Regions from separate parts of the Homo sapiens genome. Here region 1 is linked to region 2. Evidence: fine-mapped QTL for protein levels in blood plasma. Region 2 holds a variant in brackets. A gene starts in the other region. All regions are shown on their reverse strands.

Region 1 (8,337 bases), not on the chromosome of region 2:
GGTACGTGCAAGTTCACAGTGGCTCTGCTGCTGGTGGAAGTCAGGTCACTGCCAGTGGCACATGCTCTGGCCCCCAGCTGCATCAGCAGACTCAGCAGCAGATGGAGAGGGCCTGTCCCCAGGTTGCATGCAAGTGTGCAGCATCTCTGCTGCTGTGTTGCGGGGGTGACATTGCTGTCTGTGTCAGCAGCCACAGGGAGGCAGCTCTCTGGTTCTGGAAAGCATGTGCTTTGGCTCCCTATGTCTGGTTCACAGCCTTTCCAGTGCCTGAGGTGCAGAACACTGCATATGCTAGAATGCTGAGGATCCTGCCACTTTGCTGGGTCCAACTGGCATTTCACTGCTGCAGCCCCCGGTGGTGACAGCAGCAACTGTGCCACCAGCAGCAGTGGGAAGAGCCTTTTCTCAAGGTGTGTGCACTTACATGCACTGCTGTCTTCCTGCTGGGTGGGCGGGTTGCTGTCAGTGCTCACAGGTGTAGCAGGGCCATCCATCTCTGCAGAGTCCCATCTGAGGAGGCAGGGTCACTGCAGGACCAATTATTAGACCATGCACAAACTCAGAGTTGTTGTGGCCCAAGCAGGCTGTAGTCCTGGGGGTGGGCCCACCACAGGACCAGTTTTCAGGCTGGGCACCAGCATGCACAGGCTCAGCAGACTAGCTGGTTGTGAGGTGTGGGTGCATGTGGGTGTCGTGGCTAGTAGGCAGATGGGTGGCTTCCCTGCTGTTCACTTCTTCCCTGGATTGGTGGTGCACCACATGGGTTCGGATGCCGGGGTCTTGATTAGTTTATCTGGCTAGGCTCTGGGAAGCTAGGGTCATGGTGCTGCAGATACCTGTATGAATGTGTTGGAATGATGGTGGGGCCTCAAGTGATAGAGAGCCAGGTGCTACTGATGCTCAAAGCAAGACACACTCTCTATGTAGGTTCAGTTTGGAGATGGCACTGAGCCATAGCACCTTACATTGCAGGGGCAGAGGGTGCTCAAGGTGGTCTCTTACTATGTAAGGCAATGCAGTTTGGAAATCCCAACTGCTCTCCAGACTGGTTTTTGTGCCAGTGAGAACAGTGGGGCAAAGATTGTTGACATTTTTTATGGCAATGTGGACCACTGGGGAACTACAGCTTACTTTTTCCTGTAGAATGGAGTTACTGATGACCCTGAGCCAACCTTGACTGAAGAGAGAGTATGTCAGAGGCAGGATGCTATATTGAGTTTCTGTACTTCACAGAGGTGTTTCTGTTCCCCTGGTGGTCTCCAGCATACTTTTTAAATCACACTGGCTGACATAAAATTGTTTGTTTTCTTGATTTCTTTTTGTGGGGAAATGAGTGCCAGGGAACTCTAGTCAGCCATCTTGCTGATGTTCTAAATTCTATTTTTAAAAGATCACTCTGGCTGTTGTAAGGAGAACTGCTTGGGATGTGGTGAGGGGCAGGAATGTCACCAAGATCAGCTGGAGACTGTTGAAAGTCCTCCAGGAGGGAGAATCATGGCTTGACTCAGGACCTTCTGATAGAGATTATGAAACTGATCATATATGGGATATCTTTTGAAGGTAGAACCAATTGGATTTGCTAAGGGCAGTACACGGAGGAGACTAAACAATCAAGAGTGACACTTATGTTTTTGAATGGTTGAGTGAAACAAATGTCATGAACTGAGAAAAGATTGTGAGGTGTTATCAGCTAAATTGTGTTCCCTCCAAACTCTCATGTTGAATCCCTTACCCCCGATACCACTGAATGTGACTCTATTTGCAGCATGGCCTTTAAAGAGGTGATTAGGTTAAAATGAAGCTGATAGGGTTGGTGCTAATCCCATCTGACACCTGTCCTCATAAGAAAAGAACATTAGCACAGACCACAGAGGGGTACCAGGGATGCACGTCTACAGATAAAACCCCATGTGAAGATACAGCAAGAACCGGCCATCTAGAAGTGAAGGAGACAGGGCCTCAGAAGACACCAAACCTGTTGACACCTTAATCTTGTACTTCAAGCTCCAGAACTATGAGAAAGTAAATTTCTGTTGTTTAAGCCACTTGTGGGGCATTTTTTTAGGGTAGCCATAACAAATTAGTATGAAGGAGAGCAGGTTTTAGGAAGTAGAAATCAAGAATTATATTAGGGGTATGTTAAGTTTTCATCTGTTGTAAAAGGCAAGTGGATTGCTGAGAGTGTCCACTCACCTACAAGTGCCTAAGCTCCTGCTGCAGTCCTGCTTCTCGATTTGACCCCACCCTCACTCACTGACAGTGTCTGTTTCAGCTCCTCCGTCACCTCTGTTGTGGTTGTGTGTGGTGAGATCATAGCTGATGTTTATTATTTCCTGATACATTAATCTCTTTCTCTCATTGCTTACACTGGAGAATGTCAGGGTAAGGGTCTGAGCTGAGTGATATTTGCAGGCATCACCTGTTGTCTTCCTGCACTCACCAGCCAAGGAGAAGCCTGCCTTCCACCAGGACTGCAGTTTCCTCAGCCACCCACACAGTGAATCATGTCTGCATGGCACGCCCCTCTGCTCCTTCTCGCTGACCTTCCTTTCCTACCTGATGGTCTACCATAAGCCACCTAGGCAGAACTACTTATCTCCACTTCCCATGTTAAACAGTGTCTGGTGAAATCAGAGGCAGCAATCCTAGTAACACAGCTGGGTCTGTAGGCCCAAACAACTACTCTCTCTCACCCATAAAACCCTAAAGCACAGCTAGAACTCTTCTGCTTCCCACATAGAGAAGAATTGCTAACTCATAATATATTTCACCTTCAAAATATGTCCATAATTATGCCAGAGAAAATATTTATTTTTTGGTCACTTTGCCAAAGTAAAGTTATCCATAACAAACACCATTGATTAGAAAATCTTCCTGTAATATTACCTCCAACCCTTCAGAATTGCCAGACCAGACCTTCATCTGCACAGCACAGGATCCACTTATCCACAATGGTCAAGAGGCCTGTCTTTAAGATTTCCAGTCACATTCCCCCGACCCTGTCATACTTCCAACCAAGCTATCCTCAAATTATCACCAGCCCTGTACAAAAATGTAACAATAATACGAGACCTATACAATGCCTGTAATGAAAAGTGGCAGCTGGTGATACTGATTGATCTAGGGGTTCCATGAAAATATAAGCAGAAAACTACTAGATAGGACAGAAAAATCAGCAGGTGAAGATTAAGCTACCAACTCAGGACCCTACCAAACTTTTCAGAAACACAAAACCTTGGTGCCAAATTTTAAAAACAAAAAAGAAGAAAGCAAGCAAAGAGAAGTACAGAACCTTGTTTAGAAAATCAAATAAAGATTTCTCCCAGAACGCATGAAGAAAGCAGTAAGATATAAAACATAGACATAGGGAGGATTGATTCACAATATAACATATCAACAAGTAAGGTTCAGCACAAGAGTGAAGAAGAATGAGTATAAGAATATTGCAGAGAAAATAATCTTTGGTAAAGGCAATCTGAGAAGCAAATAGAATGGAAACTAATTAAAAAATAGAAAATCAATGTAATACTTGAGGCTTTCAACAGGCTATCATACTATCTAATTAGATTGTATTATTGTGTCCACTCAATAACCAGTGTGATTAAAATATTTGGTACAAGAAGTAAGACCTAAACTGAATCATATAGAACATTCTAGAAAAGAGAAAGATCATGGAAGAAGTCTTAGGGACATAAAATAGCATGGCTTGTTCAAGGAACTGTGTATTCACACTGTTCTGATGCAGAAATCTAATGGTGCTTTCTGTGGCCAATTTTGCCTTACTAACCTCCAGGGTATTAATAAAGATAGAATGTTTTAATACCTGTGTTCTACAACAATAAAGTATCTCTGGTTAATGCTAGATTAGGAGAATCTTAATCTCTTTGGGCCAGAGTAGCCTGAGGGTAAAACTTCTGTCATCCACGTGTGCCCAAGTGTGTGTTGTCCTCACACAACTCAACATTAAACAGAAATGATCTCTATATTATTATGAAATTAAGCTACATATCATCCATATAGGTATATATGCTATAAAAATGGAATTTATGCTACACTAATAGCTAGAGATATTAATCATTTTCACTTCTGGCTATAAGATCACTGCTGACAAACATATACAAACGTAAGCACGTGTGCACACAGACAACCAATGAAGGGGAAAGACTAACTGTCTAACCCAATTGAAAATCAAATGATGACCAAACTTCAATTGTAGTATTTGTGCTGATTGCTTGGATACTGTTTCTTCAGAAACTATGCTCAAGTCACAGTTTGTACCTAACCACATCCTACCACCACATCCTGCTGGGCTAAAATCCCAAAAAGTAATAAGAGACGCATTCAACTTTATGAGAGGAAAGCAAAACCTAATCTTTCAGGTGGTGAGGTCCACCCAGTATGGAGCTCAAAGGTGCCATTGTTCTGCTCATGTTTATAAAGGGAGCTGCCATGTTTCTCTCAACGCAGAGTTGGGAGCAACTCCAGAGCCTCCTTCAAGATGCTGCTGGTCCTGCTCTCAGTGGTCCTTCTGGCTCTGAGCTCAGCTCAGAGCACAGATAATGGTAAAAAAATTATTTTTTTAAAAAAGGAGATGGGGAGTGGGATGAGGGGCCATGACTCTTCTAGGGCCTCAGGGGTTCACCCTACACCACTGCAGCGGAAGAGCAGGAGGGGAGGAAGGAGGTTGAGAAGAAGGGTAGGGCTTTGGAGCTCTCATTCCAAGGATGACATCTGTTGTGCCCTCATTCCATGCCAAGGCCTTATACTTTATTTGATATACACTTGGAACCCAATAGAGAATTTCAATTAGAGGAATGACAAAGTAAGATTTGTATTTTTAGAAAGACCTGGCTGTGCTGTGAAGGATGCAGTGGAGAATGCAAGACTGATCCAGGGAAGTCCAGCTATGAAGATGCTACAGTAATCTCAGTGGACAGCGATGATGGTGTCCTTGCTGTACAGGGGATGCAGAATCAATGAAAGAGATAAACAAACATCAGAGTACTGTCAGACATAGAGGACTGGATAATACATTTGTGTCTTTCTACATAGTGGTATAGAAATATCAGGTCCCCAAATTCCCATTTTTCTTCCAATCACATTTAAAATTTCAATATGTTGCAGGCAGCATGTGTAAGATTATATCCAAATATTTACTCCTGGTTGCTCCTCTTGGGCAAGCTTGTGAATATGATCAAAATATTTAAAGAAGGAAGAAGGTAAAGATCTAAAATATGACATGAAAATACCCAGAGAAGTGTGCCTAAATTAGCATTAGGGTTTGAGGGATCCTAAGGATGACAAAAAGGGACTCTTCTATTGAATTCGTGGTTGATGCTCAGCGATAGTAACAATCCTGCCTCCCCTAACATCTTCCTCCCCTTCCAGCAGCTTCACAGAACATGGTTGATGAGGTAACTTAGGGGATGCACAGGGTGTGGCCAGAAGACCCCTTTCCCTATAGACCACTATGAGCCCTGAAAGATTTATGAGGTAATGTTCACTTCATCCTGTGCTTCTTTTCCTAGATGTGAACTATGAAGACTTTACTTTCACCATACCAGGTAAATCCCAATGATCCTCAATCCAATTCTTTTCTTTCTTTTTCCACTAGAATTTCTTTTTAGTTTCCTTCAGTGTCTTCTTCTCATCATTTTTTTGGGAGGAGGTGGTAAGAGGGGTCAGGCATTGATTAATATTAGTGCCCCTAAATATATAGGCAATTCTTACCCATCTTTGATTCTGGGGACCATGAGCCAGGCCACCAACTTGAATACAGAGATGCCTGGCTTTGAGGACAATAGGAGTGGGCAGGCTTTTTTCCCAGGCTGGAATGACTGCTGAGAGATGATGAACAAATGAGAAGTGTTCTCATTCTGACTCCTCCATCCTTAACTGCTTCTTTCTTCCCCCAGTGTTCCCCCGCACGGTTATGTGGCTTCAGGGAGTAACACAAAACAAAACAAAAAAATCACTGCATGAATGTCTTTTCTCTGTGTTGACCCACTCAGCTGTGTCACTACAGATGATAAATAGTTGCCACAGCTGTTTAGTGATCATGTGCAGGCTTTCACATTGTCTTTCTCTTCTGTCTCTTAGTATTTCTCTACTTGGTTCCAGGAGCCTGGGAAATCAGCTCTAGTTTCCACATAGGGCTTAGGTGCCCAGAGATGGAGTCACAGTTTGTAAGTCATTACAGCAACCAAAAAATAAAAATAAAAAATAACCAGTAACATAACTGAAAGCTATAATGCTTTTGCTTTTTTTTTTTTTTCTGTCCTTGGAGACATCCTCTGGCAACTCTAAGATATGCAAGAACCCCTCTTTTCATTTAAGGAAACATACTTGTCACAGGAGCAAATAAATGAGACTTTCCATATCACTCTTACATGGATTAAGTTGAGAGCTGCATAAAAAGAAAAAAAAAACAGTGGGCACAAAAGAAGTTGACAGTCAAGCAGCAGGTTTGGGGAGAACAGGGCTGTGTGGTAAGGTGAGAGAAGTATAAAGAGAGGAGAGTTTTTCTTCACTGAGCTCATGCATTCTTGTCCATTAATTACTCACACAGATGTAGAGGACTCAAGTCAGAGACCAGATCAGGGACCCCAGAGACCTCCTCCTGAAGGACTCCTACCTAGACCCCCTGGTGATAGTGGTAACCAAGATGATGGTCCTCAGCAGAGACCACCAAAACCAGGAGGCCATCACCGCCATCCTCCCCCACCTCCTTTTCAAAATCAGCAACGACCACCCCGACGAGGACACCGTCAACTCTCTCTACCCCGATTTCCTTCTGTCAGCCTGCAGGAAGCATCATCATTCTTCCAGAGGGACAGACCAGCAAGACATCCCCAGGAGCAACCACTCTGGTAATCTAGAATTCAGTGGCAGGTATGATTCCAGTTCATTCTCCATTAAATGCCCAAACTGCTACCATTCCCAAACTTTATCGTGTTCACAAATCAATTGGAAATATGTTGAAATTACATAATCCTGGACCCCATTTCTAAAGATTTGTATTCAGATATTCTTGGATAAGGTTGCAAGTCCTTGTATTTTTAACAAGTGGTTCAAAGAATTCTTATCTTTTGAAATACTGACCTCCCCAACTTTTTTCTTAAGATGACTTGTCTCATTAAAATGAGTTGGTAATGAGGAAGTGGGGTGTGCTCTCCCTTTGGTGCTCTGCCTCCTGTCTTTGAGTCTGCCTTCTCAAACCCAAGGACTCTCCATCTCAGGTTTCTCTCAGGTTTCCGCCAGAGGACTCTTTGCTCAGTCCTGCCTCACACTAGCCTCTCAGGTCCAGTGTCCCTGCTAAATGATACTTGAACTTGATGCTCTTATATCTTATTTAATTTTTAAAATACTTATTTTGAAATTAGTACATGCTCAAGGAAAAAAAAATCTAACTGAACAGAATGGTATGAAGCTAAATCTTAAAGTGACGCCTTATCCTACTTACCCACACCCTTCACCAAAAGTCACCACCCTTAATTTTTTGAACATCCTCCTGGAAATATTTATATGTATATAAGCATACGTCATTATTTTTCCCACAAATGACATATTATTTTATATGCAGATCTGTATTTGCTTATTTCAAATAATACATGTCTTAGACAACTTTATCATTTCACGGAGACCTATAGATCTTCTTGGTGATTTATTTGTACATTTTTCTTTTGTTGTTACAATTGTATACTATTCTCTTGTGTGACTGTACCATGATTTCCTCAGTCAACCACTGTTAATTGATATGTAGGCTTGTATTAGTTTTTCACTACTACAGGTTCAAGTTGCAGTCATTTTCATAAATATAACCTTGAATGTTTTGAACAGTAACCAAAACATAAACACCATAAAAAAATCTGTTTTCTTAATCTTGAAAGCAATAATTTACTTCAGTAATATCATCAAGGAATTAGATAAGTTTTGCCATGTTGTATGTTGTGTATAAATTTCCTTGGTTTTTTTTTTTGTTTCAGAAAATAAATAAGAAGATAACTTCCTTCAGAAAGCCATGACATTGAAATAATGTGGTCATAACTCTTTCTTCAGTATACCAATAAAATATTAATAGCATGCAATTTCTGATTGTTGCTTCTCTTTGTGGGTGTTTCTGAGTCTAGAATTTGAGGGCCATTAATACAATCTAAGAATATCTGGGACTCTTGCTCATTGATGCTTCCAGCAGGCTTCCCTCCTCCTTTATCTTAATAAAGCCAGCTGCCAAGGAGAAAGAGTTCCATTGTTCCCCTTCTGTCCTAGATTGCATAGCACAAATGCAAATTCTTAAAATTATTTTTACATCTTTCATTGATATTCTTGTAACTCTAG
Region 2 (8,337 bases):
GGTCTCTCCTTCTAGAATTTAAGTTTTTTAAGGGTAGGGAATGTATCTTCACCCATTCTTGTATTCCTTCAGGCATTCATGTTATCAGTCAACAGCATTTACTGAGCACCTGCTTTATGCCCAGGCCCTGCCCTAGACCCCGGGATGCAAAGATAAATAAGATATAGCCCAGGCTCATGCCTGTCATCCCAGCACTTTGGGAGGCTGAGGCGGGTGGATCGAAAGGTCAAGAGATCGAGACCATCCTGGACAATATGGTGAAACCCGTCTCTACTAACAATACAAAAATTAGCTGGGCGTGGTGGTGCGCACCTGTAGTCCCAGCTACTCGGGCGGCTGAGGCAGGAGAATCACTTGAAGCCAGGAGGCGGAGGTTGCAGTGAACCAAGATCGCGCCACCACACTCCAGCGTGGCGACAGATAAATAATATACTGTCCCTGTCCTTGAGGCTCCCAGTCCAGTGATTGGTAAATAGATGTTTATGACTCAGCATGACAAATTCAATAATAGAAAAATGCAGAGGACAATGTGAGTTAAAAGGAAGAAGCATTTTCCCCATTTCAAGAGGTCAAAAAACACATCACAGAGAAGGAGGTTTCTAAACTGGGCTTTGAAGGATGACTAGGAGTTCTTTGGGCCAGAAAGACATTGCAGAAGTGAACACGTACCAACATCATTGATAAAACCTCAGCAATTGTTGTGGTTCCTGGCACATAGAAAATTCTCAGGAAAAGTTGCTGAGTTGTACTAAGTGAGAATATCGTGACTGACGGAAACCCAGTCCAAGGACTGGGGAAAGAGGGCCCCATCCTAGCTCCTCTGCCTCAAACCTGGAGACACATTGAAGTCATTTGGAAAGTGTGAGAAAACACTGATGTTCCAGTGTCACTCCCCACCGCCCCCACCCCAGAGATCCTCATATAATTGGCCGGAGAGGCTGCCTGGTCTTTGAGACTCTTAAAAGCTCCCCAGGTGATTCCAATAGGCTGCCTTGTTTGAGAACCACTGATGTAGACCAGTGCTTCTCAAACTTAATGTGCAAATAGATGCAGGCAATCTTGTTAAAATGCAGATTCTGACACAGCAAGATGGGCCTGAGAATCTTCATTTCTAACTAGCCCCTGGTAACACCGCTGCTGCTGGTCCTGGGACCACCATTTGAGTAGCGAGGCTCTCTGAGGCTTAATGCCCAAAGGCAATTCAGCTGGCCTCAGCAATGTGCCTGCATGCAGCGGTGATATTCCAAATCCGAAGGGAAGGGTACATGTGGGGGCACCAAGTGCCCAGAATGGATGTAGCGGCCACAGGTCTGAAGGCTCTGCTGCCCCTGGTGTGAGTTAACTTAGTTGTGGGTGGGGAAGATGTTAGGGGGAGGGCTGGGCAGTCAAGGCCACAGGGGGTGCCTGGGAGAGGTGGGGACAGCAGCCTGTTTACCCACCTCCCTGTTGTAAGAGCTGACATCGAATACCGGTGTCTACCAGCTGGCTGTCCCCCCACCCACGGCCTGCACCCAAGGCCGAGGAACAGCCAAGAAGGCCTGGCGAGCAGCATCCTACGGAGAGGACAGCGAGGAGGCCGCCTTGGCAGGAGCTGCCTGCTGGATAAACATTGTTCTGTTTTTTTCTTTTTTCTCTTCAAACAAGCCCTTCTCAGCACTGGCCACATCATCCTAAACAAGGCCTCTCAGTGCTGTTGACACAAAGGCAGAGACGGTGTCATTCCAGCCCAGAGATAAAACTCGGATCCTCCCACAATGGTGGGCACTTCGTCTCGGGAAGAACACCAGTGAATCAGGAAATTCAGCAAGCTGGGTCTAAGCCCTGCCCTCAGGCTAGGCTCAGGTTTTTTGTTGGTTTGGGTGGATTTCTTCCTCCCCAAAGCTCTGCTTGTTTCATGTGCCTGGTCAGCAGATATGTCAGCCCCAGACAATGGCCTCTTTCTGCAGACAATGGTCAGCATGAGGAATGTCGCAGGAGGGCAGGGCTTGGGGAGGGACAATCCCGCTTTCAGAAGTCAGTGGCCGAGTGGGTGCTGCAGGGAGGGTCCTGCTGTCACCAGGGCAGCCTCCTCAAAGGCACCATTTATAGGACCTGCAGCCCCAGAAAAGTGGAAGCTTTGGGCAGCAGCAGAATCAGAGAGCAGCTCCCTCGCCCGCTGCTCCCGGCAGACTCGCCCTGCCTGCTTTATCGGCCTCCCGAGGCTCCTGCAACCACAATTCCTACCATGCAGACTTTGTTTAATGAAAAAACAAATAGTTACCCCCAAATTAGACCGAGGCCTGCTGTTCCCTCAGCCGCGCCTCCTGCAGTACCCAGCCTGTGCCTCATTGGCCGGCTCTCCAGAAAAGAAAGGGCTCATTCATCCCCAAAGGTGGAAACTCGCCTTCTCCCAGGGAAATTGTGTAACCGTTTTGTAGTGGAACCGACTACAGGCCTCAAGGTCTTTTGCAAAAAGAAAAACAGATAAGGGGGCGGTGGCGGGAGCCAATGCTGGCTGTCTTAGATTTGCTCATTGCAGAATGATTTTCTGACAGAGATCATAGGCCCACAAGTCACATCAGCTGGTCCCTGGATTTCAAGGATCCTCACTGTGATTGGAAAATTAAGTGATAGCCATGCATGCATGCATTTATTCATTCATTCCTCCAGCACAATGTATGGCACATAATAGATGCTTAGTAAACATGTGTTGAATGAATGAAATGTTTTGTAATATCTGATTCTATCTCTCCATGCTCAGAAAACCTTCAACAGCTCCCTATTGCCTATATTATCAATTTAATCTTTCTTAGCATAGCTTACCACTTGTAACTGGACCCTCAAATACCTCTCCAACCCTACAACCTCCACATGCTCCCAATCCCACCCCTCCAACACGCACATATGCTGCCTACTGTTTCTTGAACCAAACCATTGTTGTGTGAGCCTCTAGGCCTTAGTCCCAGCTGTCTCTTAACCTCAAGGCCCTTTCCAAGCTTCTTGTAGGGATCTGGTGAGTTCCTCTCCCATGAGACTCAAGCCAGTGTTTACTCCTCCTCTTAAAAGCCATCGCTAAATATAAAAAATTAGCCGGGCGTGGTGGGGAGCGCCTGTAGTCTCAGCTACTCAGGAGGCTGAGGCAGGAGAATGGCGTGAACCCGGGAGGCGGAGCTTGCAGTGAGCTGAGATCGAGCCACTGCACTCCAGCCTGGGGGACAGAGCGAGACTCCATCTCAAAAAAAAAAAAAAAAGCCATCGCCAAAGTGTCAGGCTCCATAGCCTCACTCTTGTTCATGGCCCTATCATGACACTTGCCACTCTTCCTTCTATCTTCCTGTTGCAACCATGCTGTGCACTTCTTGAGAGTGAGAACTGAGTCTGACTTACCTCCATATGCCCAGTGGGGGCCCAGGGTCCAGTCCATCATAGATCCTCAGTAACTACAGAGACCAACTAGTCCTGGTTTGCCCAGGACATTCCTTGTCTTAGCACTGAAAGTCCCACATCCCGGGACACCCCTTAGTCCTAGACAAACTGGAACTGTTTGTCCTCACATCAGTAAATGAGTAGTGAATGAATAATGCCTAGGTCTCTATTCATTAGTTCATTCACTTAACACACATGTAGTAAAAATCTGTGAGCCAGGTCCCATGCTCATACAGTTAGAGGGTGTTTCTAAACAGCTTCATGGCCCAGCATTGCAAAAGGACAGCTCTTTGGGGTTGAGTTAGCCTCAAGTCCATGGGGCACCTTTCCTAGATTCCTGTTTATCTCCTCCGCTATCTCTTCCAGTATCCACACCACGTTGTTTACAATGCATCTGTTGACATCTGCCTTATCTCCCTGGATTTGCTCTGGGCCTCCCTGGGTCTACTGCCCTCAGAAAGGACGAGCCCTCTAGCCTGACAGAGGAATTCCTAGCTAAGGTTTTATAAGTCAAAAGACCCACACTGGAGCTTGGGTCCCAGGGCAGCCCCCAGCCCTGGGCCCTCAGAACGAGAGCGATTGCAGCCAGGACGCATGTGTCTGCCCAGCCGTCCTCAGACCCTGGGGCTGCTTGGACCCATCTGTTTCCCAGTTCTAGGTCAAATCAAGCTGAGAAAGGATCAGGCTTCATTTGACCTGAGATGGCTGGAGCATCTGGCTGCTCCCTCTACCTCCCCCACCCTGGCGAGATGAGCCTAAGTCCCCCATCCCCCTCGGTGGGCTCTCGGAGACGCCATCTTTTCCCTGGTGATTTCAGGGCTTCTGGGAAGTGTGACCCAATAGAGGCCACAAAGACAGACACATGTGGCTTGAATCCCAGCTCAACTACTTAGCTGAGTGGCTCTAGGTAAATTCCTTAACCTCTCCACGCTGTCTCATTTAAGCAGGGATATTGATAATGCTCACTTTGCAACATTGTTATAAAGACTATAGAAGATTTACCAGGTGTCCAGCTCCCTGTCCAGCGCACAGTAGGCGCTCCAACAAGCAAACAGAATCAACAACCATTTGCAGTTAGTTCATTCAGCACCTTAGAACCAGGCCTGTACCTTTTGGCATCTCGCTCTGCTAGAGAAGGGCTAGTATCACTCACCAAGTCCTTCCTTATTTAAGATGTGCTCCCCTCTAAGAGGAAGGCCCAAGCTGCAGAAGCTGCTTCTAACCAAGATGATGAATAAAAGTTGTTCCTTCAAATTGGAAAGTTCCTAAGAATCTTTGGTTAAC[G/A]AAGGACAAGAAAAACAAATATTAACAGATGGATTTCTTTTTAATCCGTGCGCTAAAACCGCACAATAGAAATGTTGAAAGTCTCCAACTGTTGATTTGAAAGCCCGGCATGAAGGTAAATACGAGGCACCTTGATATGTGACCATTTGGAGGTCACACTTCGAAGAAGCTATAGTCAAAAAGCCCTCTCCTTCCGCATGTTGAAATGATTTTCTTTCATCAAAAAAGCAACGGCCTGGCTCTCCAGGAAGCAGAGCCTGTGAGTTGTGTGCATAATGGACAGTCACCCTTTTAAAATACACATGAATTTAACCAACCTGCGTCATCCACGTTGCCTCCACTGCCTTTGCCTGTCATCTGGACAATTCTTAGCTCACCTTCCAGTTTCCACCTTTCCATATAATCTTAATGTCCCTATTTATTTCTTGCTTGTTTCTATGAACACTTTTTTTATTACATCAAAATTAATAGATTTGCACCACAAGAAGTCAGCACTACTGAACGGCAAAACTATGATATTTTTGGAAAGCCCCTCCAAGTTTTGCCTTGTTTCTCAGCAGTAGCCCTGAATTAATTACTTTAGGGAAATCTTTTGATCACAACTTTGCATGTATGTGTCTGGACTCACATACATTTAAGAATGTGCTGGCATGAGCGCACCCAGGCACATAAAAAGGATGAATATCCTAATGGTCAAGTCATTGTACAGCAGATGTGACACAGGCAACTCTGCACATCAATAGCAGGTTGCTTTCTATTGTATTCTATCTTTTTAAAAGTCAGGTTGGAGAAACACTGGAAATTAATTGGGATAGCCATAAAGACAACATTTGAAACATTACTGCACATGCCATACCCATTTTTCCCAATTAGTCTTTTGAAATATATGCTTTTATTCCTAATTTCTGAGTAATTGTCCACTTTGGAACTCCTACAAAGTGGGTAGGTATTTAAGAACCATGATGACCTATAACCTTTGACCCAAGGTGATCTTTACTGGGGGGACCCGTGAAAGATTGATTTGAGCAGAGCTGAGTTAGACAAACAAGCCATTCACATAACTTCAAATCTGGAGGCAAATCAGGTAAAAATGTGAGCAACCTTTGTGGCCTGGAATTTCCTGTCCCCATAGTTAGAAATTAGGACAATACTCCTAGCTTCGGCAAGTATTGATGAAGAAGTTTCTATATCTTCTTCAAATAGCCCCATAGAATGATCCAATAGGGCATCTAGGTCCCGTCAATGGCTGAGCTGCTTTCCTGCCAAATACCTTTGAAAAGGAACCCAAAGGGGTGCCTTTCACATAATTTAGAGCAACAGCTCTTAATATTTCCATCACAAGCACTCCTTTAAAAAAAAAATCTTTTCTCCAAAGAGCCCAGTTTTGGGGAGACTCTATTAAACAAACTACACTAACTTGTTTTCCAAATTTTCTGTCATCAAAACACAGGAAATTGCATGAAAGCTTCTGATGGAGTTGAGGTCACTGGAGCTGCCACATGGTGAGGACATGATTACAACCAGAGAAAAACTGGTCAGTGCTTTGTGCCCCGGTGAGGCTGAGTAAAGGCTTTTTTTTTTTTTTTTTTAGATGAAGTCTCTCTCTGTTTCCCAGGCTGGAGTGCAGTGGCACAATCTTGGCTGACTGCAACTTCTGCCTCTTAAGTTCAAGCAATTCTCCTGCCTCAGCCTTCTGAGTAGCTGGGACTACAGGTGCACACCACCACATCCAGCTAATTTTTTGTATTTTAGTAGAGACAGGGTTTCAACATGTTGCCCAGGCTGGTCTCAAACTCCTGAGCTCAGGCAATCTGCCTGTCTCAGCCTCCCAAAGTGCTAGGATTATAGGTGTGAGCCACTGCGCCCAGCCTAAGGCATGATTTTAGCTACCTTGGGGCAAAATGTTTAACTGTCAATGATCATTCCAGAAGCCTTGGCATGGAGGAGCCCAGGCTGGGAACCCCTAACCCTGAAGCTTCATCGCCTCCATTTCTAAGCCCATGTCATGAGAACAAGGTGGCAGAGAAGGAGGGTGTAAGAGCCAGATGGAGGCTTTGTTTGTTTTCCCTAAAGTGTTATTTATTGTTAAACAAAGGAAAAAATTTGACATTAATGAAAATTTTAAAACAGAGAAGCATCAATAGTAATCCTGTGACCAACGTTTTAATTTTCTTCTACAACGTTTCCAAGCTTTATCCACATGTACACCCTCACTATCTGTGGATTCCATACTTGTGAATTCACCTACTTGCTAAAATGTATTTGTAACTCCAAAATCAATACTTGTGGCACTTCTTGGTCGTCCACAGACATGCACAAAGTGGCGGAAATTTTGAGTAGTTCCACACATATGTTCCCAGCAGAGTTTGAACAGGACAAGTTCTGCCTCCTTGTTTCAGCTCACATACTGTAAATGAGCATCCCTTTCACAGACTATTTAGTGCCCACGTTTTTTGCATTTTTGTGCTTTCTTTTGGAAATCTGTCTGTTTTAAATGGCTCCTAAGCATAGTGCTGAAGTGTTGTCTAGTGTTTCTGAGTGCAAGGAGGCTGGGATGTGCCTTACAGAGAGAATATGTGTTAGATGAGCTTCATTTCAACATGACTTCAAGGGCTATTGGCCATGAGTTTCATTTTAGTGAATCAACAAGATTCTGTCTTTGGATAGAAGCCTGCATAAAATAAAGTCATGAATTAATCAACTAACAAAACATTATAACCAGAGGCTCTCAGGACTCTGTGTTCCTCCTGGAGGCAATGGTTCAGCATTCACTAATTCAGTGTTCATGGCGATATGGTTTGGCTGTGTCCCCACTGAATCTCATCTTGAATTGTAGGTCCCATAATCCCCATGTGTTGTGGGAGGGACAAGGTGGAGATAATTGAATCATGGGTGCAGTTTATCCCATCCTGTTCTCGTGATAGTGTGTTAGTTCTCATGAGATCTGATGGTTTAATAAGGGGCTTCCTCCTTCACTGGGCACTCATTCTTCTCCTTCCTGCTGACATGTGAAGAAGAACATGTTTGCTTCCCCTTCTGCCATAATTGTACATTTCTTGAGGCCTCCCCAGCCCTGCAGAACTGTAAGTCAATTAAACCTCTTTTCTTTATAAATTACCCAGTCTAGGGTATGCCTTTATTAGCAGAATGAAAACAGACTAATACAGTAAATTGGTACTCAGAATGGGGCACTGCTGTAAAGATACCTAAAAATGTGGATAACGGGCTGAAGTTGGAACAATTTGGAGGGCTCAGAAGACAGGAAAATGTGGGAAAGTCTGGAACTCTCTAGAGACTTGGAGGGCTCAGAAGACAGGAAGATGCAGGAAAGTTTAGAACTTCCTAGAGACTTGAATGGCTTTGACCAAAATGCTGATAGTGATATGAACAATGACGTCCAGGCTGAGGTGGTCTCAGACGGAGATGAGGAACTTGTTGGGAACTGGAGTAAAGGTCACTTTTGCTATGCAAAGGGACTGGCTGCATTTTGCCCCTGCCCTAGAGATCTGTGGAACTTTGAACTTGAATTTAGACTATGTGGCAGAAGAAATTTCTAAGTGGAAAAGTGTTCAAGAAGCAGAGCATAGAAGTTTGGAAAATTTGCAGCCTGATGATGTGACAGAAAAGAAAAATCCATTTTCTGGGGAG

Which allele goes with the higher level. Positions count from the first base shown, and alleles are read on the strand shown. Strength reflects both the effect of a copy and how common the allele is.
For the plasma level of the protein whose gene starts at base 4,461 in region 1, G is the low allele of the variant in region 2 and A is the other (weak association).

What was found. PIP is the chance, under the fine-mapping model, that this variant and not a neighbour inherited with it causes the effect. Protein levels are from antibody-based Olink assays in UK Biobank. Linkage for the fine-mapping came from a reference panel and not from the study's own genotypes, which makes the PIPs less certain.
Region 1: it holds the start of PRR4, and the variant in region 2 is fine-mapped to the plasma level of the PRR4 protein (UK Biobank, PIP 0.93).

Annotation. Positions count from the first base shown.
Region 1 is chr12:10,845,599-10,853,935 of GRCh38, reverse strand. It overlaps PRR4 (proline rich 4), which reads left to right and starts at 4,461. Exons shown (of 4, transcript NM_007244.3): 1 at 4,461-4,562; 2 at 5,529-5,564; 3 at 6,569-6,891; 4 at 7,986-8,087. The coding sequence starts at 4,499. The coding sequence ends at 6,873. PRH1-PRR4 (PRH1-PRR4 readthrough) reads left to right here. Exons shown (of 10, transcript NR_037918.2): 8 at 5,529-5,564; 9 at 6,569-6,891; 10 at 7,986-8,087.
Region 2 is chr2:16,063,800-16,072,136 of GRCh38, reverse strand. The region is part of intron 1 of GACAT3 (gastric cancer associated transcript 3); the gene reads right to left. Among named protein-coding and RNA genes, the nearest start is that of GACAT3, 18 kb to the right of the region's middle. The variant G/A (reference allele first, on the strand shown) is at 4,690.